2 separate regions of the Homo sapiens genome follow, and region 1 is linked to region 2. Evidence: fine-mapped expression QTL. A gene starts in region 2. The other region holds a variant in brackets. All regions are shown on one strand. Distances are between the middles of the regions. Region 1 has its middle 60 kb from the start of MID1IP1-AS1. Region 2 holds the start of RPGR (retinitis pigmentosa GTPase regulator).

Region 1 (2,917 bases), 540 kb after region 2:
AAGATGAGGAGTAACCAGCAAAGGAGACAGATATGGTTTGGCTCTGTGTCCCCACCCAAACTGCATCTCGAATTGTAATCTCCAGATGTTAAGTGAGAAACCTGGTGGGAGGTGATTGGATCATGGGGGTGGCTTCCCCCATGCTGTTCTTGTGATAGTGAGTGAGTTCTCATGAGATCTGATGGTATAAATGGTAGTTTTCCCTGCACTCTCACACACTCACACTCTCTCCCGCTGCCTTGTGAAGAAGGTGCCTGTGTCCCTTTCTGCCATGATTGTTAAGTTTCCTGAGGCCTCCCTAGCCATGTAGAGCTGTGAGTCAATTAAACTTCCTTTGTTTATAAATTACCCAATCTCAGGTGTTATCTTTATAGCAGTGTGAGAACGGACTAATACAGAGACTAAGAAGGGAAATCAACAAAAATAGGAGGTGATCCAAGAAGGGATGGTGTCTGGAAGGCCAAGAGAAGAAAACATTTCCAGGAGGAGAAATGATGCTGATGGGTCAAGTTAGGGAGAAGCCTGAAAATTAGTCTTGGACTTAATTGTAGGGACCATTGGTGATACTAAAAGTGAAGTTTCAGTGGGACAGTGAGGATGAAAGCCTTGTTAGAGTGAATGCAAGAAAGAAAAAAGGAGGAAGTAGAGCAAGTAGAAATAACTTCTGAGTTTTGCTGTAGAGGGGAGCAGAGGAACAAGGCAGTAAGTGGAGGGAGATATGGGGTCAAAGAATATTTTTATTTCTGTTTTTGTTGTGTTTTAGATTCATAATATAAGAGTGAGTTTGTGTGCTGGTGGGCGTGTTTTAGCAGGATGGGCTAACTTCATGGCGCAGCAGCAGGCAGGAGGGAAGTCTCAGTAGGCTGGGAGGGGACAGGATCTGATTAACATACAGATTGCTTTGGCTTTAGAAAGGAGCATGGATAGTTTATCTACTATGTCAGAAGAGAAGATGAAGTATATGATCACAGAGGCAGAGAGGCTGGGATATATGGTGGAGGATATGGAAGTTCTCTTCTGAATACTTTTGTTAGTGAAATAGGCAAGATCATCAGCTAAAAGTGAAAATGAGAAAGGGAGTATCGAAGATTGGAGGAGAGAAGAAAAAGGGTGATAGAGTTGTTTTAGAGACTGAAAGGATAGACTGACTAGGGAAGTGTAGTGGGACTCTAGGCGGCATTACAGACCTACTTCAAGTTTGTGGTCATGAATTTAAAGTGAGACCAGTCATCATGGAGCTGCCTCAACTCCTTGCTTGCCGGTGCCAAGGAAGTGGAAAGGTGGATTTAAACAGCATAGGGATGTGAAGGTAGGAGAAAGAGGTGAGGGAATTGAGGTGGTTGAAGTGGTAGGAAAGGGAGTGGGTGTTATGATGGGATCAAAGCCAGGTAAGAAGGGAAGCAAAGCTACCAAAGGGGTTAAGGGGAGTGAAAAGCTGGTAGGATCAGTGGATAAGAACTCCCAATGAGATTCAAGAATCGTTGGAGTTGAGAGACGACAGAGTAATATGGAAAGCTAGAAAGTGGTAATTGGAAAGTGGGAAACTTGAAACTGAGATAT[G/A]TTGGGAATGCAGTCACTGGTAATGACAGGTCTAGAGTGTGACCTTGCTGAGTGGCTGAGGTAGGGCAGAGACACAATTGTTGGAGGAGAAAAGGTCAAAGATCTGAGAAGCTGGAGAGTTGAAAGGATCAACTCTGTTGGAGTTTTGGTCATGAATTTGACCACTAGAATTATGATAGCGCCAGTGGTGGAGGAAGTCATGAACCAGGTGCTTAAATATTTAAGAAACGAGGAGAAAGGGGTGACTGGAAGATGTATGACAGCAGCAAGGCATTTTGCGTACTCTACCTGTGATGTTCATTCTTTTGGTTTGTGGATTTTTTGTTCAACCCCTTCCCACCCTTTTCCCAACTAATTATGCTGTGAGCTCATAGAAGGAAGGGACTATGTTGTTATCTTTTTTTGGCAGGTAAGCTAGTGCTTAGACCAGAGGTGTTGGTTACTTGATTGGCAGAGGGAGCAGGACCTTCTTTCCTCAGTCCTTTTTCTAGAATTTCTAAAATACCAGACATCTGTCCAGATGCATTTCAGCCCTTGTAGCAACTGCCCTTGTAGCAACTACATTTCTAAAGATAGCACAGCCAAGTTAACTCCACATTACCAGTTATTTTTAGGGCACGGTCAGTGCCAAGTCTTGAAGTTGAGGAAATAATTTCTTCAAATCTACATAATTGTGGCCAAAGGTTAGGCCTTAGTAAAGCTGTGAAGCAGTCAATGTTGTTTCAAATGCTTTTTAATCTCACTGTATGCAAACTGTAGCACCCAGTTCCCCACTCCTTTATTTCCCCTAATCAGAGCTTTTCAAGAATGACCTGTTAATTCCTGGTCTTCGCCCTGACTAATTAAACCAGCATCATTGGGACAAGGCCCAGGAATCGGCATATTCAATGCTTGTCAGGCATTTCAGTGGGCCATTTGAGAAGCCCTGAACTAAAATAGTGAGTGGTAAGATTGGACCTCTCCCAAGTGTTTTCATATTTTAAAAGTGACCTCTTTAAGGGGACAACACTGTCAAGTCCAAAGGAGCCCATTTTGGCTGGGTGCAATGGCTCATGCCTGTAATCCCAGCACTTTGGGAGGCCGAGGCAGACAGATCACTTGAGGCCAGGAGTCTGAGACCAGCCTGGCCAATATGGTGAAACCCCATCTCTACTAAAAATACAAAAATAAGCCGGGTGTTAGTGGCGTGCACCTGTCATCTCAGCTACTCGGGTGGTTGAAGCACAAGAATCACTTGAACCTGGGAGGCAGATGTTGCAGTGAGCCAAGATCATGCTGCTGCACTCCAGCCTGGGAGACAGGACTCTGTCTCAAAAAAAAAAAAAAAAAAAAAAAAAGAGCCAATCTCTAATGGAAC
Region 2 (2,915 bases):
TCCCCTGGCTTCCCTGATACCCTCATCCCAAGCCAAGGTTTGGTGGCTCTGCTCTGGCCCTGTAATATCTACTGTCAATTTATATGGTCATTTTGTTTACTTTCCTGTATGTCTCACTAAATTGTGAACTGCAGGCCAGGAATGTCAGTTCCGGCCAGGAGCATGGAAGAAAACATACATATTTCAGTGAAGGTATGATTCTGCTCAAACCCAGTGTTTTTTCAAAATGGTCGTGACCTATTAGTGGGCCAGAAAATCAATTCAGTGGATCACGATCAGCATTTTAAAAGAATGCATTATCAAAAAGGTGTGTGTGGAATCTAAGTGGATAGAACAAGGACTGCTTCACCAGACATCTATTTCTGTTACACGGTATATATGGAGTATCGGGTCACAATGTCAAAAGTATTTCTAACTATGGAGCTCAGGAAAAAAAAGGCTAAAAAACACTCGCTAAAGGGTCCCTCTTCTCCCTCTTTGTCCAATTTATTTCCTGTATCCCCTTTTACCCCACAGCCCTGATCACTCACTCTTTACTGCATTCAATACATAACCGGGAGCTCAGGACCTCCAAAGTGCACAAGTCTGGAGTCCGCACTTTGGGGAGTTTACAGAAAGTGTCCCTCCCTGGCCGGGCGCGGTGGCTCACGACTGTAATCCCAGCAATTTGGGAGGCCGAGGTGGGCTGATCACCTGAGGTCGGGAGTTCGAGATCAGCCTGACCAACATGGAGGAACCCCGTCTCTACTAAAAATATAAAATTAGCCGGGCGTGGTGGCGCATGCCTGTAATCGCAGCTACTCGGAGGCTAAGGCAGGAGAATCGCCTGAACCCGGGATGCGGAGGTTGCGGTGAGCCGAGATTGCGCCATTGCACTCCAGCCTGGGCAACAAGAGTGAAACTCCGTCTCATAAAAAAAAAAAAAAAGTGTCCCTGCCTTCAAGAAGCTCATCAAGAGCTTATTTAAAAAGCATACGAAAGACAGGCACCCTCTTTCCCGTTCTCCCCCATCCTGTTCTTCCCGTCCGGTCCTCTGCCCTCAGTCATTCGCGGGAGCGCAACCAGCGATCCCGCCCCAGTCCGGCTGCCAAGCCTGGGGCCTGTCCCCCTACAGGGCCGATCCGGAGGCGGGGCCCGGCCGCCCGCGGACCCTCCCTCCCGGCCTTCCGCCACCGGCGCGGGCGCAACTCACCGGGCATCAGCTCTTCCGGCTCCCTCATGCCACGGGCAGTACGGGCAGCCTGCGCCGGGGCCAGGAGGCTGTAGAGGACGGTTTGGTCGGGGCTAAAGCAGCTACTCCGCACCGACGCGGGCCGCGAAAGCCCCCAAGTTCCGCATGGCGAAACTCCGGAGATCAACTACAACCGCGCTCCCGGAAGTCAACAAACAGCCGCTACGGGCAACGGGGGCGGAGCTTGGGAATGCAAGGCGGGACAGGCGCCGTTGGGGAGGGGAACGGAGGCCGGGTGGCTGGTAAGGGGCAGGCTCAGGCACAGCGGAGGGGCAGTAGAGACCACGCGCCCTCTGGCGGCCTGGAGCAGAGAGGCGGCCACGCCGCGCAGTGATGCTGTGGAGTCCGCGCCCTTGTGCCGTTGGAGGTCCAGGCGCCGCAGGGACCCTGCCCATGAGTGGCAAACGTCACAAATCCCATACTCCGTGACATAAGCAAGCATCGACACACAATTATGACACTACTAGTAATAGTGACCAGCTGGAACATTAAAGGAGGTAAGCACTCTGCTAAAGATATCCCCAGCATCTAAACCAACATCTGGCCTATACTGAATGCTCATTACGTATTTATTGGACAAATGAGTACTATTACAACCCTGTAAAGTGGTTAATGTTACCTCTGTTTAAGCATGTGGGCAGCTAGTCCAGCTAGTCCAGCCTGTAGTCAACAAAAGTAAAAGCTGAGGTGTATATGGTCCACTACTCACAGAACATACACAAAGGGGTAGCCCAACATCATTGCTCTAGAATTTGCTCAGCGATGTTATATGATGCAGGGTTTCCCATGCATCAACATTTGGCTATCATGAAATAAAGAAGCAAAAAGCCATCTTCCAGAATGAGCAGATTTACGTACGTTTGGTAGTTGTGGACATGGGCCCTAGAATCAGACACAATTGGATTCAGGGATCCCTGAATTACTCTTGTGTGTTACCAACACTTTCTCAGGAAGTTTGCATTAACATGAAGAGGGGACATTAAACTATTAGTTACACAAATAATCATTTACTTACAAAGCAAAGTGGAGGTTACTAAGGAAGTGGTTAACAAGAAGCGTTGACCTGGTGTAGGAGGTTAAGAAAGGCTTATCTGAAGAAAGAACATTAAATCTAAGAACTGGAGAAAGATAAGCCAGGAGGGGGAGAGAGCTCTTGGCAGAGAGTAAATTGTGTATAAAGGTTTGTAAGGAGCTTGACTCTTTCCAGGAACACCAAGAGGCGAGGCTGGTTCCTAGCGAGGTGGCAAGGTCTTGGGCCTATTAAGGATCTGAGATTTTATCCTAAAGACAATGTGAAACCACTGAGAAGTTTTAGGCAGTAGAACAACAGGACAGGATCAGTTATGTGTGTCCCTGAAATCATTCTGCCTGGTCTAGATGCTTTGTAGAGAATAAACTGGAGCAGTGAGAAGGGTTCAGAGGCTATTGCAGAATTTCAGACATGTGGTCAGGATGGCTTGGAGTACAGTTCATTGGTGCCAGAGAGGAGCAGGCAGATTTGAAAATATTTTAGGTCTTAGAATCAACAGGAAATGGTTTCTGACTATTGACTCCTAGACAGTGCTGGACTACCAAATAGTTCTTAGAGCAACAGCAAAGATAGGGCCCTAAATTATTTTGAAAAGGATTTGATATTCATTTTTAGAGTATCATAATTGTTACTACGGGCAAATGAGAATTTTTA

What was found. PIP is the estimated chance that this variant, and not a neighbour inherited with it, causes the effect.
Region 1: its variant is the best candidate, but not a certain one, in a credible set for the expression of RPGR in tibial nerve (GTEx, PIP 0.82).

The regions. Positions count from the first base shown.
Region 1 is chrX:38,862,199-38,865,115 of GRCh38, forward strand. No RefSeq gene overlaps it. Among named protein-coding and RNA genes, the nearest start is that of MID1IP1-AS1, 60 kb to the left of the region's middle. The variant G/A (reference allele first, on the strand shown) is at 1,561.
Region 2 is chrX:38,326,148-38,329,062 of GRCh38, forward strand. RPGR (retinitis pigmentosa GTPase regulator) reads right to left here and starts at 1,362. Exons shown (of 15, transcript NM_001034853.2): 1 at 1,193-1,362. The coding sequence starts at 1,220. It also overlaps a transcript of OTC not described here. RefSeq lists a silencer at 1,051-1,300.